4 linked regions of the Homo sapiens genome follow. The protein of the gene in region 3 interacts with the protein of the main gene of each other region in a biochemical or structural test. Each region holds a gene or a part of one and is shown on either strand. Other genes may lie near its edges.

The links.
Region 1: the proteins of APBB1 (region 3) and YLPM1 form a complex in vitro, tested with the Homo sapiens proteins (one study listed by BioGRID).
Region 2: the proteins of APBB1 (region 3) and EVL form a complex in vitro, tested with the Homo sapiens proteins (2 studies listed by BioGRID).
Region 4: the proteins of APBB1 (region 3) and DHX9 form a complex in vitro, tested with the Homo sapiens proteins (one study listed by BioGRID).

The regions. Positions count from the first base shown.
Region 1 is NC_000014.9:74,793,309-74,802,144, reverse strand, and holds part of YLPM1 (YLP motif-containing protein 1), read right to left. Parts: intron 4,566-8,836; coding exon 2,448-4,565; intron 1-2,447. UniProt on the Homo sapiens protein: Plays a role in the reduction of telomerase activity during differentiation of embryonic stem cells by binding to the core promoter of TERT and controlling its down-regulation.
Region 2 is NC_000014.9:100,130,361-100,139,196, reverse strand, and holds part of EVL (ena/VASP-like protein), read right to left. Parts: exon of another isoform or gene 8,737-8,836; intron 8,561-8,736; exon of another isoform or gene 6,479-8,560; coding exon 6,418-6,478; intron 6,151-6,417; coding exon of another isoform or gene 6,038-6,150; intron 4,997-6,037; coding exon of another isoform or gene 4,909-4,996; exon of another isoform or gene 3,299-4,908; intron 3,293-3,298; coding exon 3,229-3,292; intron 1,620-3,228; coding exon 1,553-1,619; intron 1,458-1,552; coding exon 1,395-1,457; exon of another isoform or gene 300-1,394; intron 1-299. UniProt on the Homo sapiens protein: Ena/VASP proteins are actin-associated proteins involved in a range of processes dependent on cytoskeleton remodeling and cell polarity such as axon guidance and lamellipodial and filopodial dynamics in migrating cells.
Region 3 is NC_000011.10:6,394,669-6,402,389, reverse strand, and holds the end of APBB1 (amyloid beta precursor protein binding family B member 1), read left to right. Parts: intron 1-180; coding exon 181-308; intron 309-407; coding exon 408-413; intron 414-701; coding exon 702-816; intron 817-960; coding exon 961-1,045; intron 1,046-1,317; coding exon 1,318-1,401; intron 1,402-6,174; coding exon 6,175-6,290; intron 6,291-6,427; coding exon 6,428-6,604; intron 6,605-6,688; coding exon 6,689-6,856; 3' UTR 6,857-7,265; downstream 7,266-7,721. UniProt on the Homo sapiens protein: Transcription coregulator that can have both coactivator and corepressor functions. Adapter protein that forms a transcriptionally active complex with the gamma-secretase-derived amyloid precursor protein (APP) intracellular domain.
Region 4 is NC_000001.11:182,883,572-182,889,543, reverse strand, and holds the end of DHX9 (ATP-dependent RNA helicase A), read right to left. Parts: coding exon 5,909-5,972; intron 4,932-5,908; coding exon 4,731-4,931; intron 2,462-4,730; coding exon 2,110-2,461; 3' UTR 1,562-2,109; downstream 1-1,561. UniProt on the Homo sapiens protein: Multifunctional ATP-dependent nucleic acid helicase that unwinds DNA and RNA in a 3' to 5' direction and that plays important roles in many processes, such as DNA replication, transcriptional activation, post-transcriptional RNA regulation, mRNA translation and RNA-mediated gene silencing.

The sequences.
Region 1 (8,836 bases), on a different chromosome or scaffold from region 3:
CCGGGTTCAAGTGATTCTCCTGCCTCAGCCTCCCGAGTAGCTGGGTCTACAGGCATGCACCACCGCGCCCGGCTAATTATTTGTATTTTTTTAGTAGAGACGGGGTTTCACTATATTGGCCAGGCTGGTCTCGAACTCCTGACCTCATGATCCGCCTGCCTCAGCTTCCCAAAGTGCTAGGATTACAGGCGTAAGCCACCACGCCCGGCCTATTTTTTTCAACTCTTTAGACCAGAGGTTGCAAAATGGTGGCCCATGGGCCAAATATGGCCTAAAAAGGTTTTCAAAATGTGGCTTTCACATCAGTTTTTAAAATTTGAAATTAGCTGTCATATTTACAAAGCAAAATATTTCATATATAAATTCAAATCTTAAAGAGATATGGTAACACCAGGCCTACATTCCCACATGCCAACAATCAGCTGAGTGCAGTAGAGGCTGCCCATGTTAGATGAAACAACCTGTCACAATCTTCACCGTACTCTACAGAGTTATACTTGGCCCACTTTCACTCATTTTTGTTATCTGATTCTTGGGGACATTTTAATTTATGGCCCCTGCTGTAGATGGTGAGAACAACTGTCAGTCTATACCTTTAAAAACAACATTTCATATTCCTGAAGATAATTATGTAATCCTTCGGTTTTTTCTTTAAACTGACGAAATTCCTTTTACTTTTTTTCACAATGCCTACCTTAAACATAGGTAAAATCCACTACAATTTCTTAAGACCTTTTACAATTTTCTCCTTACATTAAAGTGACCCAAATGAGGGTCCACAAATGAGGGACCACAAAGTAAGGGTCAAGTGTGTAAGATTATTTACTGCTCAGGTAAATCCCATCATCACATCCCTTATGATACTCCTTACGACTTTACACTGACACAACATAAACGACTTGTATTCGGCTATGACATTATCCATCACTCCCTATATATTGTTTAATTATGTTCATGTTGCCTAGAAAGCTTTAAAAAAGGATGAAGCAGCAGCAGCACCTTTTATCCAGCATTACCATGCAAAGCAATAACGAATTAAAAAGAAATTTAAAAAGGAAAAAAAAAGAAACCTTGGCAGCTTAACAACACCAATCAGCTTGGTATTCTCCATAAATAACACAGATTTTAGAGTTTTAGACAGATTGAGTTCAAAGGCCGGGTTTGCCACTTACTAGCCAAGGGAACTTAACCTCTTTGAACTTTAGTGTCATTTGTGAAGTGGGGATAATACTACCTTATCTTTGCAGGCCTTTGAGATAGACAGACTGACATAATATACACTCAATTATTAGCAAGTGCCCAGTTACACGGTAGGTGTTAAAATTAAAGGTGTCTATAACTTAAAAGTGAATAGTGTAGTAGCTAAATATTCTATAGCATGCTTTCCACATTTTCTTCATGAGTAATCTGGAAAAAATAAACCTCTTAGCTATAGACCATACAAACCTGCCGTATCTGGTCTTTCATCATTACCTTTTCTTCACCGTATTTTTCTTTCCTAGTTCTAAAGTTTAAGTTATAATTTATTGTTAAGATCCACAAATGTAAACCAGAATTGAAAAATGGAAGAAATACATTGGAATTTATCAAAACCTAATCATTAATTGACTTTCTCAAAAAAATTGCTTTAAAAAAGTTTTCAATCTGTCACTGACTTCTAAATTCCTATCCCAAGATACAGCTGGTTTAAGGATTAAATGAGTTTATTATACACAACACACTTAGTACAGTTCCTGGCCCGGAGTAAGCATGCAATAAATGTTAGCTTTTGTTATTGTTGTTACCACAAGAAAAGAGGAAAATTATGTAGATACCTATACACAGTTGATTGTAAGTCAAGAAATCCTATTTTCCATTTCACAAAGAAAACATTTGGTTATGTAGAAACAAATAACATCCTCAAGGAGAAATATCTGCTTTTAGTTATAATGAAAGATAAAACATCCCCAAAAGAAAGTATCAATAGTTAAGACAAATCTGAGGATGCTCCTAAGCAAACCATTCTTAGCTTCAACAAAGAAAAATACAGCACTTTCCAAAGTTTTATCAATGATTAGTGAATATAAAGTCTATCAGATCTAATACCAAAGAACAAACTGATTACTGGAAAAAATGAAGGTTACACATGAACCCTGTGAAATCCAGAGCACTGAAAAGTTGAAGTTTGACACTTGAAACATGCACAGGCATGGCATGCCAGCAACACTTCTACAAAGGCCAAGACAGCAATCAATTTTCACATCTTAGGGCATAAGTTTATCATTAACACAGTTCCTAAATACCCATTCTAACCCTAAAACAGCACTGAATGACCAGAAATATAAATTAAAAGTATGTGATAAGAACTTGAAGTAAAATGATTCCATTCAAATATATCATATCACTTTAAAAAGAGCAGTCTGAATGTGGTTTTTATTAAAAGAAAGGATCTGAAGGAGTCAACTTACCGAAGCATTTTCAGTTCTTGTGCAGCTTTCAAAATGATTTCATGCTGCCTCTGACTGAGAACCATTACCCCTCCAAGGCCTTGGTCAGAGTCTAAGCTTGCATCGGACCCCATCATTTCTGAGGAATGATGTGAGGAGGGCATATGTTCCGCCATGGGGGAATGTCTATCCACATCAGATGGGTACCATCTGTCTGACAACCGTTCTCTTTCCCAGTCCATTCTGTCAGGAACATAATCTCGCTTTTCCCGCCATGTATCTCCTCTTTCTGGATACTCTCGAATCCTCAACTCACCCCTATCACGGAAATCTCGATCATACCCATGCTCTCGATTTCTTTCTTCTCTCCATCTATCATCCCGATATCTATCCAAAGGTGGAAGAGGTGGGAGGGGCGGTAAAGGTGGAAGAGATGGAATATCCCGTTCACGAAACTGTGATTCTTGTTCATCCAGTGGTCTCCCATAATCTCTGTCCCACTCATTATCCAAACTTCTATCATACATATCCATAGGTCTTGAAATCCGATCCACATCCCTGTCCATGTCCCTTTCCATTTCCCTATTGTAGTCCTCATCCATATCCTGGTCTCTCTCCCAATCATCCCACCAAGGGCCTCGCCTATCTCCATCATGAGACCGAGATGGTGGTGCTGAGAACCTGTCCTCTCTGTTATAGAGCTCTAGTGTATCATCTTGATAGTCACGTTCACATTCTCTCCAGTATCTCTCTCTATCCCAGTCATCGAGTCTTTCTCGTTCCATTGGAGCATTTCTACCATCTAATGGAAACTCTTCATGCCCTCGCTCTTCTCCATGGTTCCATGGAGCCCTAGGAGGCTCATCCCGGTGATATGGATACATTTTTTCCCCACCATCTCCTGGTTCTGGTCTGAATGGACCTCTATCACGACCAAAATCTGATCTTCCCAGTCCCCTTTCTCGACTGCCAGGCCCTCGAGGTGGTCCTCTCTCCCTGCTCCCAGCTCTTCGGGGTGGTATTCTCTCTCTACTCCCAGCCCTTCGAAGAGGTCCCCTCTCCTGACTGCCAGCCCTCCGAGGTGGTCCCCTTTCTCGGCTGCCAGCTGCACCCCTGTCCTGGCTCCCTTGAAGACCACCTGGCACTTTCTCCCGACTGCTTCCAGGCCTCACCAACCCTCTGTCCCGGCTACCTTCTCCTCTGTTCATCTTCTCTCGACTATCTTCTCTTCTACCCATCATCTTATCCCGAAAGTCTTCTTGCTTGACCAATCCTGGGCCTCGACTGATTGCCTGGCCGCGACCTCTGTTTACTAGACCTTTATCCCGTGTGTCTTCCATTCTGCTTTGCCCAGGACCTCTGTAAGATGAGCTGTTGCCTCTATTGCCTTCTAATCTATTATCTCTATTATCTGGCCGAGGCAGGCCTTTATCTTGGTTGTTTTCTGAATGGGGTAGACCAATACCCACAGGTTTAAAATCATTATCTGCTGTTAATGATGATGTTGCTACTGCTGTTCCTCCCTCCATCCCCCCTGTTTTTGAAGGAAAAGTAGATTGAGCAGGTACAGGCTTATTCGCAAGGGGTACAGGCTGAGTAACAGCTTGGGCTTTGTCGATTTGAGTCTCCATACTTTGAACATTCTGGTCCCAATTAGAGGGCTCTACGGGCCCTTCCGAGACTTCACTTTTAGGTGGCTCTTGTTGAGAGTCGCTTAGATTCTCATTTGACTGAGCCGCCTTGACATCCTTTACATCTGCAGCAATGGAAAATGCAGCTGATTGCATTTTAAAATTCTTCTGCTGGTTACTACTGGTGTCTGCTAATGGTTCTTTGTTTCCTGAAAGAGGTTCTGCTTGTGACTTAGGTTGCTGCTGATGCTGCTGTCCAAAAGCTGGTTTGGGGCCTTTCCACTGTGGTCCACTCTGTCGAGGACTTAGGGATGTACTGGGGGTAATATAAAATTGAGATGCTGGCCCCCGGGGAATCATTCCCCACTTGCTTTTAGTGCCCTCTGCTGGGTGACCTTCATATCTGGGTCTTGGCCCATCGGGGCGATTTCCTTCAAAACGAGGCCCTTTGGGTCTCGGTCCTTCACACCTTGACCCTAAATCCTCAAATCTTCGAGGACCATCAAATCTACAAGTAAAACAAAAGATATTACTCAAGACAGTAAAGCAGAAAAAAAAAATTCTCCATGTAAGAATATTTAAGGCACTCTTGCCTTAGAATTTGTTTACAACAATGACTCTTTTCAGTCATTAAATTAATCCTGAGTCACCAATATCTTAGAACCAGTATGTTAAGGTGGCAGTGCTCAGAAGGTCTTAGGACAGGCTTTGGAAATCATGTCAGTATTATCTAACTTACTTCAACACATCTCCTGCCGCAAGTCACTGATATACTGAACGGTTAAAAAGCAATTACAGGCCTGGCGCAGTGGCTCACACTTGTAATCACAGCACTTTGGGAGGCAGAGATGGGCAGATCACCTGAGATCAAGAGTTCAAGACCAGCCTGGCCAACATGGTGAAACCCTATCTCTACTAAAAAAAAAAAAAAAAAAAAAATACAAAAATTTAGCCAGGTGTGGTGGCAGGTGCCTGCAAATCCCAGCTGCTTGGGAGGCTGAGGCAGGAGAATCACTTGAACCTGGGAGGCAGAGGTTGCAGTGAGCTGAGATCACGCTATTGCACTCTAGACTGGGTGACAAGAGTGAGACTCCGTCTCAAAAAAAAAAAAAAAAAAAAGCAATTATAAATACTGTGCCTTAGGAGACAGAAAAGGCTGCTCATTTTAAAGAGAAAAAAATTAACAAATTCCATAACTAACTCTGAGCACTTCTGGAATTAAATTGTAACTAAAAACTAAATATGAAAAGACTAACAAGAAAATATAGGATGATTATAAATATTGTTAGAGCTAGCACTAACATTTTGATTGACAAAAGTTAAAAAAAAAAAAAAAAGAAACAGTAGCCCTATCTTAAGAGTAGGTTCTGACATTTTAAAAAGTCTGCACAGTTATTTTTGCTATAAACCCACTTGCTCATCCAGTAAAAAGAAAGTACACATCCTTTATCTGTCAGGCATTACATTACATCCAAGAGATACAAGAATAAAATGTCATATGTGCCCTCAAAGAGTTTACAACAAAATATAAAGATAATCTAAGTGTAAATAAGTACCAAGAGATGTAATGTCTCAAGTCTATGTGTACACAATAAGGAAAACAGAATTGGAGAGGCTTATGTTGAGTTTTAAAAGACAACTTCTCTGAAATCAAGCTGACAGAATGAGTTGGAGATGAGGAAAGTATGTGGCAAGGGCACCTCAAGCTAAGGAAGCAAGAGGAAAGGCGGAGAAACGTGTATCAGCAGAGCATGTTTGGAAGTGCAAATAGTTTAGCATGGCTAATGCAAAGGGGAAACAGAGTCAAGAGAGCTGATAAAGAGGGAAATGTGGAAAAGCAGCACACTAAAAAATAAGGTAAAGAAGTAAGCGAGGATCACTCTCCAGAAGATTGTGTATGCCTCATGTGGCAGAGACTACTGGTGGTCTTCCAATACCCATTCCCCACTTATCTACAATAACAGGCCTCCTGTAGCTAGACACAAGGCCCCCCAGACAAGACTCTCTTTCTCAATATCTCTTGCAGCTAGAACTGGCAGCCAAGTTCTGGCCAAGGAGCTGAGAGTGAAAATGATTTGCACATCTTCTGGGTTGTCCCCTTAAAGGAAAGGGCACATCCTCCTCTTCTCCATTTCCTTTTTCATGCTGGTTCTGACATGGTGGTGAAATATCCAAGACCAGGTAAATCAGAAGGAACTGGATTCCTGAACCATCACCTAAGTCCTAAGAGAGAATAAACTTCTAACTTGTTAAAGCCATCTGACTTGGATCTCGATTATAACAGATAAATTAATTCAGCTGGTTAAGGAGTTTGGTGTTACCTTATAAGCACTTAGAGCCACTAAATATAGTCTGATTTTTAAAAGATTGCTTTAGCAGAAAAATAGTGGACAGAGACAAAAAGTTTAAAGATCATCTTTACAATTTGGGTAAGTGAAGGTGATGCCTAGTCTAAGGCAGTGACTGATATGAGAATGTAGAGGAGGGGATAAAAGTGAGAGATGTAAAATAAGGTAGAATTGATAGGATTTTGTCACCAGTAGAAATAAAATGATAGTTGTAAGGGAAGAATTTAAGATGATTCCAAGGTTTCTGGCTTAGGTGACTGAGTAGTAGACAGTGATGCCTTTCATGACTTTTAATGAGTGCTAGGAGGCTTTTTCTTTCATTTCTTTGGGAAATCAATGAAGACTAATAAATTCAGTGTTGGCAAAATATTTATTTCCTATCCCTGTGACTTTAGGCTTTGTTGTTCTAAAAGTCTAGTTTCAAAGAGACGAACACATCCACTAGGGGACACAACAAATGATTCCACTAACCTGAAGTTGAGACCCCAACTTTACTCTGAAGTTCCAAATCAAGAGGCAATGGAGAGGGTTACTGTATTCACTGGGGATAACTGACCCTAACTTTCAAGAGGAATTTGAGTGACTATTGCACAATACAGGTGAAGTGAAGTGTGTCTGAAATGCAAGAGATCCTCTAGGACATCTCTTAGTATTTCCCATGTCCTGAGATTCAAGTCCACGGAAAATTGCAAAGGGTTTTGTAGAACTGCAAACAGCAGAAGTAATTCAGAAAGAACTGCTAATAGCCCATATCTTTCAAGAATGAAAGCCTGGGTCACCCCATGAGGCAAGGAATCCGAACTGGCTGAAGTACTTACTTAGAGCAAAGGGAATATGGAATGAGTAGTGGAAGAACATATATACCAGCTATGACCACATGACCATTGCAGAAATATGGACTACAATAGTTACAAATATTTCTTCCTTAATTTGATATATTTGTGTTTAAATATGTGTGTGTGTGTGTGTGTGTGTATTAACCAAATATTTTTTGGTTCATTAGTTTTCTTCCTTATTATCTAACATGTGTTAATAAGAGTTAACCTTATATTTCAGTATTTAAGTTACAGAACATGAAAGAGGGAGTGTGAATCAGGTGGAGAAGGATGAACTAATATTATCTTAAAGACAAAAAAAAAAGACTTTGTGTGCTTTTCTGGGGAAAGAGAATGTTTTTGGTTGTCCAGCAATAAATGTCTCATGTTAGGTGTGAAAATCTCCCTGTGACCCAACCTAATCAGAAACATATGGGAAAGACTGCCAGGCACGGTGGCTCACGCCTGTAATCCCAGCACTTTGGGACGCGGAGGCGAGTGGATCACTTGAGGTCAGGAGTTAGAGACCAGCCTGGCCAACATGGTGAAACCCTGTCTCTACTAATAGAAAACTTAAGCTGGGCATGGTGGCGTGTGCCTATAATCCCAGCTACTCGGAAGGCAGAGGTAGGAGAATCACTTGAACCCAAGAGGTGGAGAATGCAGTGAGCCTGAGGTGGTGCCACTGCACTCCAGCCTGGGTGACAAAGTGAGACTTTGTCTCAAAAAAAAAAGAGAGAGAAAGGGAATTTTGGGAAATGGAGTTTAGCTCAGCCAAGTTGACCTTTTACAAACCCATTGCAAGGAACTCAAAAATACACAAACCCATAATAAACAGAGAGAGGAGGTAATCAGAAGATGAAAATCTTGTTTGTACATTCTGAAAGACAAAGAACAAATATGAGTGGTAACTTACAGAGCAGGAAGAAACCAGTTTAGAGTACTGATGGCAGAAAGGGATAAAATCAAAAGAAGGCTGGCTTGCCCAGAGAACCTCAGAGAAGGTCAGGATTCTCAGACACTAGGGGGTGCTAGGGAAGGAAAGGAGTAAAACTTGGGGCTAAAAATACGTAAATCTATATTCGGAACCATCAACCAGCCTTTCCTTAGGCTGAATGTCTCTTAAATCCTTGAATTTGAGAGTCCCCTAGCAGTAGTAACAGTTCCTTACCCTATTCACATAAAGCAGAAACCTGACAGGTAACAAGCCCCTCTCATATACACAGAGCTCCCAATCAGTTTGTCAGTGTCTTCCATGCTTAAACATAAATGCACAGCCAAGGATTGCTAGATATTTGAGGAACACGTCCAAAATGAAAGAAAAACTAAAGATAAATAAATAGGATCTGAATTTGGAGAAAACAGAATGCAAAAAGCAGAAAAGAACTTTCAACTCAAATTGTTATCCTCAGAGAGATTCTTAAAGAGACTGCATCTATAAATCAAGAACAATGTGCTATTTATAAAAAAGATCAACGCCAGAAGAACCACAGAAAAAAAAATTTCCAATTCTCAAAATAAAAGATGCAATAAAGGACTAGAAGTTAAAGTATCTCAGGAAGTACAACAAAATGTAAGATAAAAGGCACAAAGATAATCAATCCAACAGATCCAAA
Region 2 (8,836 bases), on a different chromosome or scaffold from region 3:
AGGACGTGGCGGAGTCCGCTGGGAGCGCTGCAGGCTCCCCTTGCTGCCGTGTCTGCTCCAGGGCCCTCGTTTTGCCCACTCTGGTTGCCTTCCCCTTCCCAGCCTCCACCATGGCACCCTGTGCCTCAAGTTCCATGACTGGGCCCTGCGCATGAACACAATGCAAACTTCTAACTCCGCGCTCCCCCACACCCTCTTCCTCACCCTTCCCGTTCCCCTGCCCCATGGCCTGTCTGCTTCCAGGTGGAGGTGCGGGGGAGCTTGGCGGGTGGCTGCAGGCTCAGGGCCCTGGCACTTACCCTTCCTTCAGCTTGGGAGGCTGTCCCCATGATCTCCGCAGAGCAGACTCCTCCTCGTCCGGGTCAACGAAAATGCCAGCTCCCGACAGAGGCTTGCCCCACCCCACTCCGCAAAGCACCCTGTCCCTTCCACCATGTGGCCCTGCACCCTGTCCAGAGCACCCCTCAGGACCACAGTGGCCTTGTTCACACGGTGCTCTTTGCAGGCAGGGACTGTCCCCAGCACACGGCCTGGCTGACCACAAGCCTTGGACAAACCCCAGCTGACTGCTAAGACTTCCTCATCTCTGTCCACCTGCACTGCTCTGCTCTCACCACCTGTTCAGCTCTGCAAGGCCAGTTTCAATGCCTCCTGCTCTGTGATAAGGGTGGTTTCCCTTCAATTTGTGGTGGCGATGGAGACATTCTTGACGCAGGTTCTAGAGGCCTTCCAATTCAGGCCACATGTACCTCCAGATACTATGTGGCTGGCTGCCTCTGCCTTTTTGGGCAATCTCAGTTCCAAATATTCTATCATGTTGTCATGCCAGCTTTTGGCTTGGGAAATATGGTCAGTATGTCTGTGGGGAAACTGATTCTGTGTGCCGGCCGCAGAGGAAGGACTCTGGGCTGGAGGAAAGGGGTAGGGCTCAGCGCCAGTGCTAGGACTGGTTGAACTGTAGGGTGCAGCCCTGGCTAGTGACCACACCCCATGTCCAGCTGTTGCTCACAGCTGTCCCCACCACCACCCTGTGCAGCAGGGGTTAACAGACCTCACTTTGTGGGGGGAAAACAGAGGCTTGGAGAGGTCCCCTAACTTGCCCACTGTCACACGTAGTGAGTCCAGAGCTGGGACTCCATGTTGGCCCCCCCCTGCACTACCTCTGTGGACAGGTCACTGCCCTCCTTGCCCTTGGTCTCTCTCTCAGAGGGAAAAGACGGAGCAGCTGACTGACAGGACCCCGAGGTCCTGGGTCTGAAAGAACAGACCACCTTCGCAGAGCAAGTTGTTAAATGCCAGGACGTGAGACAGCGTGCAAGGGTGTTAGTCACGGGACGGGGGACAGAGGAGCCCCAAACCCTGGGGGACATGTGAGCAGGAGGGTTGTTCGGTACCTAGAGTGAGGCTGCGACTGAAGGGGGCTCTTAGCTTCGGGGCTCTTTGCCACAGACGGGGTTCTACGGCAATGGAATGAAACAGACATGTGAATCGGCGCCAGCGCCCGCCTCTGCCCCACCAGCCTCGCTGCTCAGGCCTTCCTGGGGCAGCTCACCTGGACAGAATCGAGGACACAGGCTTCTCCACCGAGTTGCTCCGCTCCCAGGGCTTCCGGCCAGCCTCTGTCAGTTCATTTCATGGATGAAGAACCTCACAGGTGAAGGGACTCAGTAGCCACCCCAATCCCCTAAACACCCCAACAGGAAGCCCTCACCCATGCCAAGGGTGCAGAGCCCCGTGGCAGGAAGGTCTGATTGAGTTAAGCCAAAACCTGGCACCTTGTTCTCAGTCCCCCATGGCCTAGGTCAGGTTGACCCTGACCTGTGATCTGGTTCTGAGCCCTTCACTGTGCCAGGTCTCTCTGGAATGTGAGCCTGCTGGTAAGGGACCCAGTGACTAGAGCCACAGGGCGAGCAAGCACGACCTCCCCGGACATCCCAGCACAGCCTTGCTCCCACGTGTGGTGTGGCGGCCAGGCCCCTCGGCCCGGCACCTGCTACTGAGGGGCTCCTTAGTCTGCCTCCCATGCTGCGCCTGGCTCTGTCCCATTCTGGCTGGCTTGTCTTTTTTAAGTGGTATTGGATTATATTTTGTTCTACTCCAAAAGATTTGTTGCATTAACTTGAATTCGTTGACTGTGCAGGACAAGCAGAGGCAGAAGACAAAATCTCTAGGGGGTAGTGGGGCAGCTGCCTGGCCCAGAGCTAAGCCTTGGCACCCTGCGGACCAACGGTGGGATTGAGGCAGTTTTCCTCAAAGCCACCTTCTGGGACAGGCGCTGGGCCTGCAGGCACTAGACCTGGGGCTACAGACATGTCCCAGGTGTGTGGCCTTGAGCAAACCACTTTGCACACAGATGGGAACCACGTAGCCCACTCACTGGGCTGTTGGAAGAAGCAAACAGGGCAGGGGTATTGATCACGTTCATCAGCCAGGAACCTATGCATCCTGGCAAATCAAGACACCAGGCAAAAATCTTAGGAGGAGAGGACATGGCGTGCAGTTTCACAGGGAGGCGACACCCAACCTGAGCATGCCCCAGAGACACACGCGAACAGCTGGCAAGAGCCTCCTCTGCCCAGCTAGGGCAGCCTGATGCCCCTGTCTCTCCTCGCTGTGCTCATGAGCACAGGCCTGGCACAGAGCAGGTGCTGCAAAGATGTTTGTCGAATGAACAACCAACCCTGGGGTCTTCCTCCCCTGCGAAGCCTCATCATACTCTCCTAACTACCTCCCATCTGCCACAGCTTAGACAGAGAGAAACCTGAGCCAGGGAAGGGGCTGCGTTTTGGGTGGAGCGAGATCTACTGCCATCTCTGTAATGTCGGTCATCAGCTGGCGTTTCACTGGGAGACATGAGTCCTGACACTGATACCTCTTAAGAGCACTGGCCCCAGCCTGCCTCAGGAGCCCTGGACACAAACTCCCACCCTGAATATGTGCCGTCAGGCAAGTGCCTTCTCTCGTGCGGGACTCAGGGTCCTGGTGGGAAGGTGACACGCAGGTCACCCTGGGGACCCATCACAGTGGCTCTGCTCTAGCACTTCCTGTGCTCCCACATGGGCTCCTGGGGGAGGCTCTGGGGGACCCATAAGAAATGGGCTTCCCTGTGGCCTGGCCCTCTGCTCAGGCATACTAAAGAGGCTGGATCAGAGGGTCCTGTCCGAAGGGTCCCCCCTCCCACTCTGAGACCTCATGCCTCACTGGGGTCAGCGGGGGGCGCCCTCTCACCTGAGGAGTTAGGTGGCTGGCTGGCTGCTCGGGTCCCCGGAGAGGGGGAGGTACTAGGATCTTCCTAAAATGGAGAAGAAGGGAGTCTGTTTAGGAAGGCCACCTGGGGCCAGGGCAGGACATCATTGGACACTTCATAAAACCTCAGTTTTCCAAATGTTCCCAATGAACACATATGACTTTTATAATTAGCAAAACATTAAATATTTAAAAGTGAAAACGCAAAATCTCAGTGGGGAGAGAATCGAGCCAGTGGACAAAGCTGGGGAAGGGGAAGGCTACAGGGAGCTACAGGCTCTCAGCAGGGTGATATAGAACTTCCTTCTGGCCCTCAACACCCGCAAGCCCTGAGCCCCCCTTGGGCCGGATGCCTCCCGTATGTCATCTCACTGACTTCTCATGAGCACCCCGTGGACTGGCCTGCTCCCCCTGTGCAGCACACACACCTGCCCGTGTAATAGGTCTGTGGCAGTGCTCGAACAGTGGACGTGTTCATCCAGCAGTGGGGACACCTAACACTCATCATGCATGGCATGTGCGTCAGGATGGTTTTTCAGCATCAGGAACATGCCACTGATTAAGTAATAAGAGTAATCCTTCCACTTGATGAAGCAGAATGCACAGCATTTGAGCTGTTGACAGGCGGCCACCCAACCTGATGTGTCATTCTGATCTGAAGCAAAGAACCTCTCCCTTGTCACCGTGGGCAGAGGTCTTTGCTTTGTCTCCTCTGCTCACTACATCCCCACACGAGAATCAGGAACGCCCTGCGTATCTGTGTGGTGAACGAGTAAGTCCCGGGAGGCTCTGGTCGAGAGGCAAAAGCAGGTGCCAGCCTGCAGGTGCTGGGATGAGGTTCTCAGGCCTCCTCATTTTAAAGACAGCTGAATAACAGATTATGTCAATCAACACACACATGTGGGGGCCACGATGAAAGCGATACAGGGTGACATCAGAGTCACTAAAAAATTATCATCTTTTCTTGTATGTTATTTTTTTAAAACCCTCCCTGCTTAAAAGGGAAGTTATGCTTTGACTCTAGGCTGGGAAAGAGGTGGCCGCAGCACTCCCAGGCCCTGGGCACAGAGACTTGCACCCCACCTCTGGCAGTCGCACAGTCTGTGAGGCGGCCATGCCTGGGTGCAGGTTTTCAGGTGGTGGAACTGGTCCTCGGAGCAGTAACTCCATTGGCCCAGGGCCAGCTCTGCCATGGCAGAGGGCCTGCCCAAGTCACCGGACTCCACATTTGGGGCTCTTTTCGTCTTTCAAATAAGCCTTCTTTCTTCTCTGTTAATGATAAACTTAGTGCATGTTCACTGCAGAGAATTGGGGAAATACCAGGAAGCATGAACAAGAAAACGAGTGCCGGCCATCAGCCTCTCTCCCTCCCACTGCACTTGTGTGGTGTGTGGATCTTCTGAAGGCCCTGCTCTCTTTAGACGCTAGTCCTGGGTATGAGAAGGGACCATGGCAAACAAGAACCAGCTGTAGCCAGGGGCCTGTGAAAAACAAGACAGAAAAGATGGGGGTCTGAGGAGGAGAGTGCTATCCTTGGGGTTGAAGGTTTCAAGAATGTTCCTCTTCCAGAAGCCCCTGGGCTTTGAAATCCATTCTTCTTAGAGCTCCAGGAGCGAGAGTTTTAGTTTTCAGGGGCTGGGACTGCAACATACTGGCACCTGACTAAGAAAGGCCAGCGATGTCTTCAGATCCCCAGGGCTGTGGCTGGAGCGAGGCCACAGTATTTTGATGTCTGTGATTATCCCGTGGCCTGCAATTTCAGAAATTCATGGCAAGTCAGTTGGCTAAACTCCACAGCATGTGCAAGGTATGGGAATGGTGGACGTGTGAGAAGCCCAGGCCTCGCCCTCCAAGGGCCTAAGATCTGGCAGGAGACAACGAGTCTCCACAAGCAGTCGTGCCTGTGCAGAGGGCCTCGGGAGAAGACCGGGGCTGGGATCAAGTAGTGAGGAGCTTTGTGAGGCCTGGGGGTCGGGAGGCTGTTTTTTTGTTGTTGTTGTTTGTTTTGTTTTTGAGACGGAGTCTCGTTCTTGTTGCCCAGGCTGGAGTGCAATGGTGCGATCTCTGCTCACTACAACCTCCGCCTCCCAGGTTCAAGCAATTCTCCTGCCTCAGCCTCCCGAGTAGCTGGGATTACAGGCATGCGCCACCATGCCCCGCTAATTTTGTATTTTTAGTAGAGATGACGTTTCACTATGTTGGCCAGGCTGGTCTCAAACTCCTGACCTCAGGTGATCCGTCTGCCTCGGCCTCCCAAAGTGCTGGGACTACAAGTGTGAAGTGTTGAGCCGGCCGGGAGGCTGTTTTTTAAGGTGTAAGGGTGATGCAGGGAAGTGCAGGCTGAATGGGAGTTGGCTGGTGGGGCAAAGGGACCCATATGTGCCCAGGACGGGGCTGAGAGGCGTGGATCAGCTGGGAGGGCTATAGCCTCAGGGTAACACCAGCATGACCCTGACTGATGGGAGGACAGGGCAGGAAGCCTGCTCTGGTCCCTGGCAGTTTTATTTCCTCTCTGATTCTGCACTGAGGTGGAACCTTCAAGGCATTTGTAGTTAAGGCTAAACTTAGCCCTGTCAGTAGGAGTCTTTTTATAGGAAAAGCTTAACATGGAGGAAAAGAGAATTAGCCGCCCTAACTGGAAGCAGATGTTGGGAGCTCTGGCAGCCAGGCTGGCTCTGGGCTGCCTGGTAAGGACAAGAGCCAGGGGTCCAGGGCTCCTTTGCCACAGCTCACCTGAAGCTCCTGCTGGAAGAGGAGTCTTTAGAAACAGAAATAATTTGAAAATAAAAACCTCTCTGGGCTTCTGGCAGACGTGCCCCTCTGCAGTGTACTCCTGGAGTCCCAGTCCCGCCGAGACCCTGGCTGGTCTGTGCTCCCCGGGGCTCCTGGGAAGGCGAGGTAGCCCTGCGGTGCAGCGGCCAGCGCCTCAGGCTGCAGCTCCAAGGGTGGAGCAGTGTCTGGTAGGGGGTGCTCAGTGAGGGCAGGCCTGCTGCTGGGGCCAGGGTGGCGCAGGGACAAGCACCGCAGAGACCCTCCGCCCCTCCTGTGAATCACCTGATGAAGCGCCCATCCCACGCATGTCCCAAAGGCCTCGCCTGAGACCAGAGAGCCTCCCTGGCGATGCGCTCATCTCAGTGGGGAGCCTGAGGGTGGGGCGGGCTGCTTGCTCACCATTTGGCTTTCATCTTCCTTCTTCTCGGCTGGCTTGTCTGACTGGGAGGCTGCTTTTCTCCTAGGCACAGAGAAGGGGAAGATACAGATCAGCTCCTCACGTTCTCTCACTGTCCCAGAACTCTTCTGCCTCCACCCTGCCAGACTCACCCCGGTCCTCAGATAAACCTGTGTGGGAAAACGATGGCGTGAAGGAGGCGGCTTGTCTAGGCCCCGTCTGGTGAGGAGCCAGGCCCAGGCAAATGTCCAGGCCCTCCGTGTGGTCATGGCCTGGGACACAAAACTGGTCTAGGCAGAGAGGGCGAGATGCCTCTATGTCTGTTTAGCTCTACTGGCAGCAGCTGTAGCATCTGAGGCGTGGAGGGGAGGCGGGCACGCTCTGTCCCCAGGACACTGAAGGCCTGGCCACACGGGACAGAGAGGCATCTCTCTGGGCTGCAGTCTGTCCCACAGGTCGGGACACTGGACACTTTCTTGTGTCACTCTAAGGCCCTTGTGTCTTGGAACTCAGTTAACCCAGCCACGCCCTCCCCAATCTAGAATGCCACTCAGAGCCTGGAAATGCTCAGAAGAGGAGCCCTGGAATAGGTCCACGTGACGCCCTTGAGTCGGTTCGTGCACCTCCCCAGTATGAATCCCCGTTTCATGTACTCTAAAACCTCACCCATATTTTTTGGCCTCAGTGGTATCTGCTGACCTCCCAGGTCTACAGAGGCAGGCAGACCCTCAGTGTTTCCCAGAGATACGCTTCTGTGGCTTTTCAACTTGAGATGAGCTGCCCATCAAGCATGGAGCTGGTCTGAGGTGTGATAATGGGCCGTGGCCAGGCTGTCACCTGTCTGTGATGGGCCTACCTGGCAGCCTCCTCAGCTACAGCAGGGGCCCCCTTCTTTAGCTCCCATCTCAGGACAGGTCTGCCCACCTCGTCCCTCAGCCCAGAAACCAGGGAATCATCCCTGACACCAGCTTCTTATAACTGTCAGCCTGGTCAGTTCTCTAAATCTGGGTACCTGCCTGTCTTTTTTGTCTTCACCTTCAACACCTTCCTGCATGCCCCTATCATCTCTTCCTGGACTGTCAGAGTCTCCTAACTGGCCTAGCCACGATCACTTACACCTCACCAGCTACCCCCCAGCAGCCAGTGTCCCATCTCCTAGAAACAGAACGCTGACCAAGCCACCTGCTCACGGGGAGTGTAGGCGGGATGAGTGTCTGTGAAAGTGCTGCTGAACAGGAGCTTTCTGTCCACGTTCATTTCCCTCCTGCCCTCCACTGTTGGGAGACTCAACTGCATGCCCTCAGAGGCGGGAGACAACCTACATGAAAAGAAACCTGGCAAGGGCACTTTCATCGTCGGCTCCACCCAGTAGCCATCACTGAGGTGGATTTCAGAGAGCACCTGATTGATCCCTGCTGAGCTATGCAAAGCATGTTTGTTCTTGGGAGGGCCTTGACTCTCCCACCGGCATCTGGCATCTCACTGGCTCCTGGCAATACTGGCCTTTTCCTGTTCTCAGACAGAAAGGTGCTTCCCCTCAGCTTGGTCTAGGACTTAGGGAAAGCATTCATATTTTCTTTTCCAAAACTATTTCTATTTCTCTGTGGCCCATCCTCGCCTCTGAGTGCTCTGAGGTGGAACCCGATGCCCTGCACCAGGAGGCTCCCTCTTCCAGCCTGACTTTTGGTCCATTTCCTCCACACCTAGCTCTCCAGGCACAGGGGGCGTCAGCCTTCCCAGCCTTACCTTAACTCTGCCCACTGTCCCTCTTACAGCACGGGACGTCCTCATCGTTCTGCGAGCCCTCCCGGCTCTCTCACCCACGGAGCCATTCGCCTTTGTGTGGCCACTGTAAGCCCCACACACCTGGACTTACTCTCACAGGAAACTGCTCAGAAGCCTGCCTCCTGTCTTGGCGATGTACAAACGCCCAGGCCCAGTAGAGGCTCCGGAGACGCCCGTGCTGCGGATCCACCTTGCTGCTCCCTGACACACGGGGAGCCTCCCCTCCCTGCCATCTGTGATGCAAGCAAAGAGCCCCTTGGCAGGAAACCCAGGCTGTGGCCCTGCCATGAAGCGCCACACCAGCTGCCTGCAGCTGTGGGCCTCTGTCATCTCGCATCATCCTCATGGAGCCACGGGAAGGTAATGAGAGGAACTAGGACTGCAGTGTGAAGACCCTGGGCACACAGAGTTCTCACTTGGGTCAGCCAATTGGAAGGCAGCTGGGAGGGCCAGGAGAAGGCGACAAAGTGGCAGGGGGTGGAGGTGGGGTTACCAAGGGAGCAGGGCCCCCGCTGCAGCTTCCTCTGTTCTGGCAGGTGAGGCCTACTCCCGTGCCCTCTGGTGCCTAAGTGAGCCACGATATTGGTAGTCCAAGGTGAGCACATTCCTGATGCCAAGTCATATTTAAAAATAAAA
Region 3 (7,721 bases):
GGTGGAGTCAATGTGAGAGATGACACGTGACCTCCACTAGAGTGAGGCCTGCAGGGCGGGCGGTCTGACACCAAAGCAGGGGCCCCAGAGCTGTGGCTAACATCCCCTGAGCTGCAGGGGTCAGAGATCAGCCACCATCCTGGCTGGAGTCCCACTGAGTGCCTGCTTCTGGTCCTGCAGGGAAAGGATCTGCTACTGCAGCTGGAGGATGAGACACTAAAGCTAGTGGAGCCACAGAGCCAGGCACTGCTGCACGCCCAACCCATCATCAGCATCCGCGTGTGGGGCGTCGGGCGGGACAGTGGAAGGTGGGAATAGGGCTTGGGATTCGAGGGTGGGAGTTCATCCAGCATCAGAGTCCTCCTCTCTAACTCTGTTATTTGCCTCTCTTGTGCTGCTGGACCCAGAGAGAGGTACTATGCCTATTTTCCCCCTCCTACACCTGGACCAGATGCCTGGAAGCACCCAAGCTCCCCTCTTCTGCCCTGCCCCTTCCCACCCGCTATGCTCCACCATTACCCTCCACCTCAGCATGCTTGCCTGTCTACCCCTCCCCCCCAAGAAGGCAGCACCTATGGGGGACCAGCTGTGGGCAGAAGCCCTGGAGGAGCTGTGATGGGCAGGGAGGACGTGGGTGGGGTGGGGACCAGGCTCAGCACTGGATGGTACTGGGAGACACTGAGGTGCCCCTTCCCCAACAGGGACTTTGCCTACGTAGCTCGTGATAAGCTGACCCAGATGCTCAAGTGCCACGTGTTTCGCTGTGAGGCACCTGCCAAGAACATCGCCACCAGCCTGCATGAGATCTGCTCTAAGGCACGGCCCCCTCCACTCCCTGGACTAGTTGCCACCTTTGCTCTACAAGGGTGTGGGTGGGGTCACTGAGTGCTGTAGGGGGGCCCCAGGGCAATGAGGCTCTAATAGATTCTCCCTGGCTCCTCGCCTCCCTTCCTTCCTCAGATCATGGCCGAACGGCGTAATGCCCGCTGCTTGGTAAATGGACTCTCCCTGGACCACTCTAAACTTGTGGATGTCCCTTTCCAAGGTCAGTGTCAAAACCCCTCCAGGTCCAGCTCAGCTTTGTTGGCAAAGGTGGGTGACCCAAGGAAAGGCATGAGCTCCTGGACAGCGCTGATAGAAAAATGAACACATGAAGACTGAATACTCCAATACGTGGAGGGACTCCGGTTAAAGGGAGGCAGGGGACGAGATGAAAGTAGGGCCTCGGCTGGGCAAGTGTCCAGCTTATGCCCTGCTGGTGGGGCTGCGGGTGAGCAAGGTCTGCCACCATGATCAACCTTCTCTTCTTTCCCATAGTGGAATTCCCAGCGCCTAAGAATGAGTTGGTCCAGAAGTTCCAAGTCTATTACCTGGGGAATGTACCTGTTGCTAAACCTGTTGGTATGTGTGTCCTTCTATACCCAGGGGCTGCTACCTTGATCCTAAAACTCTGCCCCTACCCTCTGCCTTCCAATACTTCTTCTACCAGACCTTCCTCATGCTTGGTGTCTCCCTACCCTTTAAAATGCATCCCACCTCCCCATACTTCTGTCCTAGCTCTATTTCCTGTCCTGCCTATAGCAGCAGTCAGCACGCCTTCGCTGAGCATCAGCCACGTGAGTGGTGCTGAACCAGGCACAAAGGGAGACCCCACTCCTTCATCCCATGGAAAAGCTTTGGTGGGATTGGGAGGCTGATGTTAGATGACTGGAGGACACCAGACAGCAGCCTGTAGCTGGGTTTAGTGTTACAGCACCAGCTGTGGGCTGGGAGCATCTGGAGAAGGAAACAGTGAGCATAATTGTCACATACTTCATTGTTGCAAAGAATTTTTTTTTTTTTTTTTTTAAAGACAAGTCTCGCTCTGTCCGCCAGGCTGGAGTGCGGTGGCGTGATCTTAGCTCACTGCAACCTCCGCCTCCTGGGTTCAAGCAATTCTCCTGCCTTAGCCTCCTGAATAGCTGGGATTACAGGCTCCCGCCACCACGCCTGGTTAATTTTTGTATGTTTAGTGGAGACGGGGTTTCACTGTGTTGGCCAGGGCTGGTCTTGAACTCCTGACCTCAAGTGATCCACCTGCCTCGGCCTCTGAGAGTGCCGGGATTACAGGCGTGAGCCACTGTGCCTGGCCTGATCTGGTTAACTCTTATATTTCAGTGCTTTCCTAGTGTCTGCTATTTATTTGTTTATTCACTTAACAAATACCTTTGAAGCTTACCATGTGGCAGGCCCTGGACTAGGCACAGGGAGAACAGTGGCCACAGTCCCATTTTCCTAGAGGTTATAGAAGGTTATGGTAGAAAAAAACCAGGAATTAATAAAATAATCACACAAATAAATGTGTGAGTTATTCGTTGAGAGAAAGTAGCAAGATATAACAAAGGAATTTCATCTAGTCTGAGGTTGTAAAAGACTTCCCTGTGAAAGTGACATTTGAACTGAAATCCAAAAAATAAGTAGAAGTGAATGCGGTCAAGTGGAATGGAGGTGGGGGTGGGATGGGGGAAGATCAGGGTCTACAGTGGGAGGCACTTTGGCATTTCCAAGGTACTGAAAGAAGGCCAATGCAAGATGAGGCCGACAGCTGGGCAGTGGTCAGGCTGCCAGGTCAGGGACCTCAGGGGCTATGTTAATGATTTTTTCTTCATCCTAAGGGCAGCAAGGAGTTATTGAAGTCTCCGAGAGTGCACTTGCCTTAATCAGATTTGAATTTTGAAAGCTCACTTTGGCTATTTCATGGAGGGGACTGTTAAGTGGGTGGAGGTGGATGTGAGCAGCTCAGTTAGGAGGCTCTTGCTGTAGTCCTGGCCAGTAATGAGAGTATCTTGGGCAACAATGGAGCTGAAGAAGAGTGCGTGGATTCAAGAGCTGTTTAGACGGGTATAGTCAACAGGCCTCAGTGATTGGTTCGATGTGGGTGAGGGACAAGGATGACTCCTAAGTTCCTGGCTGTTGGACCTTCTGGATAGTGGATTATTTCTTTCAAGGTGGCAGATGCTTGAAGAGGCCAATTTGAGCGTAGAGATTGTGAGCTCACTTTTGGACATGCTGAGTTTGAGATGCCTTTGGGGAATCTGAGAGGCAAAGTCAGGTTGGCAGTTAGATTCACAGATCTGGAGCTGAGAGGAGAGGTCTGGGCTGGAGATAGGAGTTTTGGCATTATTGGGTTGTAGAGGTAATCAAAGCCATGGATGTAGAGTAGCTTGGCCCTGGAAAGTGGGCATCCTGAAGTGAGAAGGGAAATGAAGCTAGTCATAGCCTTGAGGCCCTCCAACATTCAATGGATGTGTAGAGGATGAAACTGCCAAGGATAGTGACAACTGGAGAGAGGCAGGAAGAAGAAAAGAGGCTACTTGAAAAAGAAGTGGTAGGGTATCATGTCAAAAGACACACAGGAAGAACTCAACAAATGTTTGATGAATGAAATAAAAAATGAATTAATGAATAAATGAGACTTGCTTCAGATTACATGGCCAGGAAAGCTAGACCTGGGAGTCAAACCCCGGTCATCTTTAATTCTCTGCACTTTCCCTTATACCGTGCTGACTTTCACGTCCAAAATCTTACATTGAAAGAGGGGACCCTTCTTAGAAAAGGTGGGGATTGAACTGAGGTTTTGAAAGAAGGTTTGGATTTGCAGAGTGGAGTGGGTATTTCATTTGGATTCGATGGCACTGCCAAAGACTTGGAGCTGGAGGTGAGAAAAGCATGCTGACCCTTACGCCTTTGCTTTCCTCCTTCTCGTCCTCAACTTCTAAACCCTTGTTGGCTCTTCCATTTGTTACCCCCATTCCCATATGTGCTTCTTTCCATCTACCACTTGACTCTGGTCCTCCCTATGCCAGATCAACTGCCTGTGACCCTTGACTGCTCCGCTTGGACAAGTGGTCTCTAAACTTACTTCCTGCTTTATCTTATGCTCGTTTTTAAACATTAGCCCATCCAGAAGCTGCAATATTCATTCATTAATTATTCATTTATTTAACAAGTGGTAATGAATGCCTGATACATGTCAGGCACTATTCTAGCTTCTTGGCATGCATTAATCAACAAAACTGACAAAGATCCCTGCTTTTATTTAGCTGACATTCTAGCAAGGAGAGACAGACAATAAAATGAGTAAACCATGGAGTATGTTAGAAGGCAACAACTGATACAAAAAAAAAAGAAGAGAAAAGCACAGCAGGATTAGGGGGATTGCATGTGGGGCTGGAGGTCAAGGTCACAGTGTAGGTTTTAGTCCTGAGTTATCAAATCTGACAGCCTTTTTCCATACCTTGGTCCACTGCTTTCACTGCTTCCCTGCCAAACTTCCCAAGACTCTGAGGCCAGGCTCCATCTCCCACAGCCCCATCTATTCAGCAGTTTGACTATGATGTCCCTTTCACACACCTGAACTTTGAGATTTCCAATTGCCCTGGCCTAAATGTCATAAACATCACACCCCTCTGCCTGGCTTTTGAAGCACTCTGCAATCTGACCTGGCCCATCCACTTCTGTGACACTTGGTTTTACCAGTTCGGGTGCATTTGCCCTTGTTGCCTTGAGAGTGACTTGCTCATGCATCTGGAATTTCTTCAGCAGATAAGCCCTGTGTTAGAATTGGGGACAGAGGGATGAATTAAATTCCATTTCTGTTCTTGAGATGGCCACGGCCCAGTGTGGAAAAAAGTTTTCCAGCAGTTACAAGACGTTATGGTAAGAGTTGTCTCAGAGTTGTCCTCTCCCTGCCCTGCAGCAGGCATGGCTTCCTAGACAGCACCTAGTTGGAGCCCTGAAGGATGACAGTCTGAAGTTTCTCAGTCCAGCAGGGAAAGGGCACTCAAGACAGAGGCTTTTCCCTCAGTTGCAGTCTGTGTCTCTCAAGGGCATTCTCTTCTCTTGCTTTGTATTCCCCATCTGCTTTACAGGCCATTTGCCAAGATTAGTTGTTAATAATAATGCTACACAAATCATCTGAAGCTCAGGGAGCAGTAAAATATGAAGCTTGACAGCTCTGGTGAGGCCAGTTTTTGGAAGACTTGTATGCTTTTGGGAGCAGTTTGGCCTTGATCCAGCTAGAAGTCAGATGAGCAAGGCCAAGATGGGAGAAGACATGCAAGGAAGACATTTGTCCTCTGCCCAAAAGAGTCCACGTGGTCTGCTCCTAGTGGGAGCTGAGAGCCACTAAAAGGGGCAGAGGGCCTGGGAGTGGACCACAGAGGCATGTGCCTTTTGCACTGGCATTGTGCAGAGACAGTAGATCACACAGCCAGCGTATGAGTGTGGGGACTAGAACTGATGCCTTTGCCACAACATGTGCTCCTGCCTTGGTGCTCTGCTGAGTGCAAGCAAAAGTGGGATCCATGAGGGGAAATGTTTAACAGCAGTTTGAGGTGGAGGAGGCCATGTGTTATAAGGGAAAGTTGATTGATCTGAAAGTCAGGAACCTTGGGTTCCTTGGCTCTTGAGCACATTATAGACATTCTTGAGTAGAACTAAGATCTTGAAAGCCCTTCTAGTTCTGAAAACTAGTAATATAGAGAAGAGGTAGGAGAAAGGCATGGCTAAGAACCCAGGCTCTGGAATCAGACTGCCTGAGCTCAGGTCCCCATTCCTCGATGTGACCTAAGGCATATTACCTATCTCTTCCGTTTCCTTATTTGTAAAATGGAAATAAAGTAATCTATTGTGATGTTGTTGTGTGGGCACAAATGAGGTAATACACTGTAATGACTTAGCACAATGTGATACAGAGTAATCACTCCTCAGATAGATATCTTAAAAAATAATTGGGTCTTGGGAGAGGACTGGCCTGTAGGGTCTGATTTGGGAGTTATTGTGGTGTGAAGCAATGTGATGTCTGAGTGTGATGAGCGCTGAGAGAGCATGATTTGGGGAAATCAGAACTTTGAGAGGTCAGTCAGTTCAGAAGTGTGGAGGAATAGGCAGAGCCGGTGAAAATAACGAGCCTAGGATCCAAGATTTTAAAAAGTAGGAAAATGTCCAGTTACTGAAGCCAGGGGAGGAGAGCCCCAGGGAAGGGATACTTGGACAGCGTTGTCCAAAATGTAGGCTGGCAAAGTGGGGATGGGGCAAAGGCCCTGGGTTTGATTGGGTGGAACTAGAGGTCCAGGGTAGAGCTGGGGTATCCTCTGTCTACCCTCAGTGGTATCTTGTGTCCATATGTTCTAGGGGTAGATGTGATTAATGGGGCCCTCGAGTCAGTCCTGTCCTCCAGCAGCCGTGAACAATGGACCCCAAGTCATGTCAGTGTGGCCCCTGCTACCCTCACCATCTTGCACCAGCAGGTAAAGAGCTGGGGTAGAAGTCGTGGCTGCGCCTTGCCATAGAGGGGAGACTGGGGGTGAGGGGAAGAGCTGCTAAGATGGATGTGGAACACAGTGTGGGGTTGGTGTTCCTTTTTAACTGAGTTCCCTCCATGCAGACAGAGGCAGTGCTGGGAGAGTGTCGGGTGCGTTTCCTCTCCTTCCTGGCCGTGGGCAGAGATGTCCACACGTTTGCATTCATCATGGCTGCCGGCCCAGCCTCCTTCTGCTGCCACATGTTCTGGTGCGAGCCCAATGCTGCCAGCCTCTCAGAGGCTGTGCAGGCTGCGTGCATGGTAAGCTACTAGTAGGGTGGTGTGGTGGTGGCGTGGCCCCATGGGAGGTAGGCTGGGGAGTGACTGCCCTGCTTGCCTCCGCAGCTTCGCTACCAGAAGTGTCTGGATGCCCGTTCCCAGGCCTCCACCTCCTGCCTCCCAGCACCCCCTGCTGAGTCTGTGGCACGGCGTGTAGGGTGGACTGTCCGCAGGGGTGTTCAGTCGCTGTGGGGCTCCCTGAAGCCCAAACGGCTGGGGGCCCATACCCCATGAAGAAGCCCCCACCTTCCCTCCACCTGCTTGTGTTGGGCCCCAGGGAACTAAAGGGTGTGGGTCAGGGAGGGGTCTAGAGGCTATTCCTAGGCCTCAGGCCTCCCAAATATGCCCCTCCCCAGTAGCTACGGTTCCCTGCCTAGGAGCTGGGGAGGGAGAGATCTAATCCCTTCAAGGAAGTGATAACACTGGAGTGGTAACAAGAGGAGCAGGAAGCAAGGCCAGCCCTGGTTCTCCATCCCCATGTGTTTCAGGTGGAACAGGAGGAACTGGTCCAGGCCAGGCCTCATCCTCCTGGACCCAGCAGGGGCAGAAGGAGGAAGGGACTGGTCCAGGCATGGGTCCCTTCCCCCTGCTCCATGGGCACCTCTGCTGTATTGATATCACTAATAAAGTCTGTCTGCACTGCTGTGTGCCTTCTTATGCCTGTACCACACCATCAACCCATTAGCCTGTGCCTCAGTTATGATCTTGCTCCAAAGATCTCCTTGCCCTGCTTGCCTGGAAAGAAGAAATTGGGACAGTCACACAGGGGTCTGGAGTCCAAGTCTCTTATCTTTATTTTAACAGACTGGCAGCATCAGGTCGCAGCAGCAGTACAGGGTTCCTGGCTGGGCAGCACAGGCCTGGGGCGACAGCTCCTGTCTTGTCTGCCCAGGGCAGTGTCAACTTAGGCCTCTACTCCATGGCTGTGAAAGGACAGCAGCCTCAAGGCAGTCTAGCTCCTGGGCACAGGCAGCCAAACCCCCTCCCATATCCAGCTAAACCAGCTCCAGGAAAGGAGAAGGTCCTGTTTCCCCGGCATCCTTGGGGCCCAGGGACTGGTTCTTTCACCGGATGATCTTGCCTGGTTGAACCACAGCAG
Region 4 (5,972 bases), on a different chromosome or scaffold from region 3:
TTTTAAGTCTCATCTAAGAAAAGGAATGATTTCTGGACCTTATGATGGATTCTTTGGTAACTGGATTCCCACTTACAGCTATGACAAATACAAATGGCACTGAACTTTTCCTCCCATGTAAGCAACTAGTGAAACAGCTGCTTTCAGACATTAGGTAACAGGCAATGCAGAACTGTGATCCCCAATAAGGAAAACAAATGAGACAAGTCCATGGCTATGTGGAAGCACTTTCTGGGTCATGGCAGAGGGAGAAAGTACCAAGCAGAGCACTGCGGTTAAGAGACAAACGAGTTTAGGGAGGACAGCTGGAATATGTGGGGCACAAGACCGGGGGAAGCTACACATGGAGCTCCTCAGGTCTTTAGCTGAACATGGTAACGTTAGAACTGTGCCTTAGTGCTTCTTTCAACCTTCAGAGAATGCACTTTGACAACTTTTGGCCATTTATCAATTTACATTTCTAATTGAATTTGTTGGAGGGATGAGTACCATTCAAATGAACCATTACTGATTTTATACCTTTTATGGGAGTTTTCACAACTTGCAAAGGGAGAGAAAGCTCATGATCAATCGATGGTGCTAGTTCAGTTTGGCTAGCTACAGCTGTACAGCAGAAATGAAGGTAGAGCCGGAGTGAGTGGCTAAGAAGGGAGTTTAGCCTCTACCCTGACGGCAGTTAAGAACCATTAGTTTAAGTCAGGAGAGGGGGTATGAAACTGGATTTGTTTGGGAATGTTTACTGTAGCTGTAGTGGAGATCATCTTGAGGCAGGCCTGTAGGCAGGATCAGTTAAGTTGCTGTGGCACTGTATGTCCAAACTAAGACTGAATAGAACAGAGGCAACTCAACTATAAAAGTATATTGAAAGATATTTTGAGCTGACTAGAGATGGTGGCTTAAGCAATTAAGCAGCTGAAACTCCAAAGAGCAGAGCAGAGAACATAGTACTGTCAGGACACAGGGTAGGTGGGGAGGGGAAGGTCAGTTTGGAAGGCACTGAGATTTTTTTCTGTGGGATATTTAAGCAGAGACGCATGTTCAGTGTGCAGTTGTTTACATGGCTCAGAAAGGAAATTTCGGTTGGAGACAGACTTGTGAGTCTGCAGATAGGTGCCATCAGCTTAACAATAATTGCTGAAGGTGATCTAAAACATGTATGCAGGATAAAGGACTTTGAAAAGGAAACCAAAACAAAAATATGCCCAAGATCATCCACATGGTTGAGAACAGAATTAAGACAAACCCAGTTCTGTGTAATCCAGTACCTTTGCCCTCTCCACTGTATCTTGCTCAAATGAGAAATGTGAAAAAATTCACTGGAAACTGTAATGTGCTATAAATGTATGAATATCTCTATTAAAACAAAGTAGCTTAACAAAAACCTTTTGCAACACAGTAAGGTAGGTAAATGTGTCACATCAGTGAAGCTTCATTTACCTTTTATTCAAGAGTTCTATGGATTGATTTTATTGCTTTTAATTGTCATCGTGGAAACTAACTTAGAAAAGAAAATGCTGGCCTTGGTCTTATTCAAAGACAGAATATGGGAGGAAGCCAAATGTTCAACCCTAGGTCAAAAGTTTTATTCAGGTTTATGTGGCTTGTGCACTTGCCAGTATTTACTTCAAAAGGTAACAATTCAATTCCAAGATGATTTATTCTATTACAAGTAGTATCACTTAGTATACTTTTGAAACAGGGTACAACTTCTCTGACATTTAAAATCAACAGATGTAGCTGGCATTGTAAAATTTTCTAACATACGAGGTCAACAAACAAACTACACGGCAAGTATTCGGTGTAATACTTTATTTTCTATTGTATTAAACGAAAGCCAGGAAAATACCAAGTTATTTAAAGGCAAATCTTTACTCCTTAAAGAAAAAATACAAACTGTGGTATTTTTAAGAGATCGTTATATTTTACATAATATAAACAAAATCACTAATGCATCTATATGCTTGGTTTCCTTAAACTACAATGAACCACAGAATGGGTGAAAATGCATTTACTTTTTGGTGGCAAATAAACATACTGGAAAAAACACGTAACACATAGCATGCCTTTTTTTCCTTACTGTCTACACACAGGAACTGACATAACCAAGTTTTAATAGCCGCCACCTCCTCTTCCCTGTCCAAAGTAGCCAGTTCCATAGGCCCCCCTACCACCTCCTCGCTGGAATCCCCCAGATCCTCTGTAGCCTCCACTAGGCCCTCTGTAGTCTCCTCCAGAGTTGCCTCTAAAGCCACCTCGGGAAACTCCTCTATAGCCTCCACCAACACCTGCACCATATCCTGCCCGAAAGGAGTTGGCGCTGCCACCATAGCCTCCGCTACCATAGCCTCCACTGCTATAGCCACCGCCATAGCCTCCACCACTGTAACTAGAACCTCCCCTTCTATATCCGCTTCCATTGTCGTATCGGGCCATCTTGGGAGGACGTGGACCATCTCCATACCTAGGAAAAGCACAAAACCATCACTTTAGCAAAGCATTCTTATTATTTCCCAACGACTTACCAAATGTACACATTTAGTTATATTTGAAAATTTAATAAAGGGAATGAAGCCAAATGCACAAATAGAAATTGAAATAAAATTGATCTGCTATTCTAAAACAGTCATCAATTGTATCCATCTGTTTTTCTGAAGTTCTGGTTCAATCTCAAAGGTTTTGAATTTTGGCAGTATGTCATTAGAACTTTAAGACAGTCCTCTTACTCAGTTCAATAACATAAGTGTTCCAAGAAGGCAAGCATTAGGAGAGGGTTCCTGGAGCTGCCAATAAACTATTTGGTCTTTATCACCAGATGTTTTCCTGCAATAATTCTGAAATATGATTTTGAAAAATGTCCTTGGTAATAATGCCTAAATCTGTTTCATGTGGCAAATAAGGAAAATAAAGCGAATAAAAAATTGCAGAAATCAAGATGGACTGTCAACAACTTCAATTAAACATATCCCCAATCTGCTTATTATTCCTGTGCAGCTTTTCTTCGAGAATAACACCACCAATTCAGCAGCTAAGTCAGAAATATGGCTGTGTGGCTGGGTGCAGTGGTTCAGGTTTGTAATCCCAGCACTTTGGGAGGCTGAGGTGGGTGGATCACCTGACGTCAGGAGTTAGAGACTAGCCTGGGCAACATGGCAAAACCCTGTTTCTACTAAAAATACAAAAATTAGCTGGGCGTGGCAGTGTGTGCCTGTAATCCCAGCTGCTCGGGGGGTTGAGGCAGGAGGATCACTTGAACCCAGAAGGCAGAGGTTGCAGTGAGCCAAGATGGCACCACTGCACTCCAGCCTGGACAACAGGGCAAAACTGACTCTCAAAATAAATAAATAAATAAATAAATAAATTTAAAAAAAAATAAAAATAAAAATAAATGACTGTAATCTGTCTTCCTTCTTTCATTGCACTATTCCATTTTAGTCCATCACCAATTCCTATTGATTCTACCACAAATCTGTCTAATCCAGTCACATCTCCCCATTGCAATTCTACTACTGTAATTTAAGCCACCACATATTCATACATCCTAAACTCTCTTGCATATATCCCTTTCTTTCTAGTTTCCGGACTGTTATCCTTCATAGAAACAGATTATATACACAGCGGCTCCTTGCTTACCAGCCCTCCTACCAAAAATAATCTCTCTTCTCCTAAACACCCATGAATACTTCATTTGTTATCTGCCTATGACGGTTATTGAATTATTCTATGCATTTAACCACCTAGGAGGGCCACAGAATAGCATAGTAAGAGCACTGTTTCAGGAGCCATGTTGCCTGGGTTTGAACCTGGTTCTATCAGTTATTAGCTGTATGACCTTGGGTCTTATCTGTGCCTGGTTTCCTTGTTTATATTAAAGAGGATGAGGATAACAATCTACCCATCTTACAGATAGATCAAATGCCAATACATCATTTTTGATGAGGAATTAGAGGTCATTTTTGGATAACTGGAAGAATTTTAGTACCTTAGTATATTATAGTATTACTAAAACACTTAAGGTTTTGGGGTGTGATTGTGGTATTGTGGCCATGTTCTTAAAAGACATGAAGTGTATTGATGTAAAATGTGGTAATGCCTGCTACTTCATCACAAATATTAAGCAAATACAAAATGCTGAAAATTAGTGAACCTAAATAAAGACTATATGGCTATACATTGTATCACTCTTCTTGCCTTTTTGGTAAGTATCAAGTATATGTAAATAAAAATTAGTGGGCAAAGAAAAAATTTTAAAACCTGAAGCAAATAAAAATTTTAAGAATTAAGATAAATTTCTCATTTCTTTAAGATATCCATGCTCTAGTTGTTTAAGATAAACAAAAACACATATACATTTGATACAGAAACAATTTAACATCTCATCAATATTTTTCTTTAGAGATGCCAAAACAGTACCATGGAAAAAGGGCTATCTGGGCTGTGTCACTTCCCTGTCATGTGACCCACTCTGAACTATGTATGTGCATTTGTAAGTTCCTTCTAACACTACCAACATGCACTGATGCAGCAGACCAACTACTAACAAAAAAGTAAATGACATTCTTTGTTCTGAGTATGTTAGAACTCAGAACATCAAACTCTCTATCTATATAGCTCTATCTATATCTAGAATTTTACTTAAGTAATAGGGCTTCTATCACTAACTTCAGGAATTCTAGGCCTACATAAGATCTCTCCCCTCTACTTGGTTCAGTAAGAAGTATATTGGTACTCACCGTGTACTGCCAATCATAAGGTTGATACCAGCAGCTGAGGGTCTAGAGATCTGACGGATCATGTTCAGCATACGTTCATTTACGGGGTCCAACTGGCTGATGATAGCAGGTTGTTTGGTTACTTCAACAACCAAAGCCTCCATGGCTGCCCGGAGACCAGTGATACAGGCAGCAGCTTCATGAGATATTTGCAGTTTAATCCTAAAGTGGCGAAATACATTAAAAATAAGAGAGGGAGTATATGTAGAAAAAGACCATTATCTCTCAACTTCACACATGGCACATTATAGAATAAATTTAACTTCTTAAGCATTAATATTAAAAAAAAAAACTACTTATAATGGCCCCAAACTTAGGCAAACACAGATATGAAGAGTAGTTATAATCAGCACTAGCTTCTTAAAATTCACTGCTAGCTATGAGCAGGAGTCTTAAGCCAAAAAGTCTATCAAGCCAAATAAAATATAATAAAAATATATGCAATATATAATAAACAAAAAACAAAGTCCAGCAATATGGATCATTCAGACTTTCTTTTTTTTTGAGACAGAGTCTTGCTCTGTTGCCCTCGCTGGAGTGCAGTGGCGTGATAGCTCATTGCAACCTCCAACTCCCAGGTTCAAGTGATTCTCCTGCCTCAGCCTCCAGAATAGCTGGGACTACAGGTGTGCGCTACCACACGGGGCTAATTTTTTTGGATTTTTCGTAGAGACAGGTTTCACCATGTTGTCCAGGCTGATCTTGAACTTCCTGAGCCCAAGTGATGTGCCGCACCCAGCCAGATCATCCAGACTTTAAAATAATGAATTTAAGAGACCCAGAATACTGGCATTTTCTAGGTTTTCAAGAATATGATGGCTGAGCCTACTGGCTGTCCATTAAGCTCTATTCCATTTTTGCCCAGTGCTTACCACTAGTTTTGAATCAATATACAGAGTATGTGAAAGGGTACTCAAGCTTCACTTAGATTCTGATTCCATAGTGGTGGTGTGCCTAGTGGTAGACATGGCTCAAATTCCTAATGCATTTGCTTCTACTGGTATCAATTTAAGATTAAGTATATAGTATATAATTAAGTTAGATATAATTAGTATATAATTAAGTTAGATTAGCAGCTGAATTCCATCATATTGTAATTCTAAGAATTCAGTTTGGAGTTCACATCTGAAAATCCATACCAGTCATCTACAAGCACAATCTGCCCATCAGATTGGACTTTCTTGGAGGCAAAGAGAAGCAACT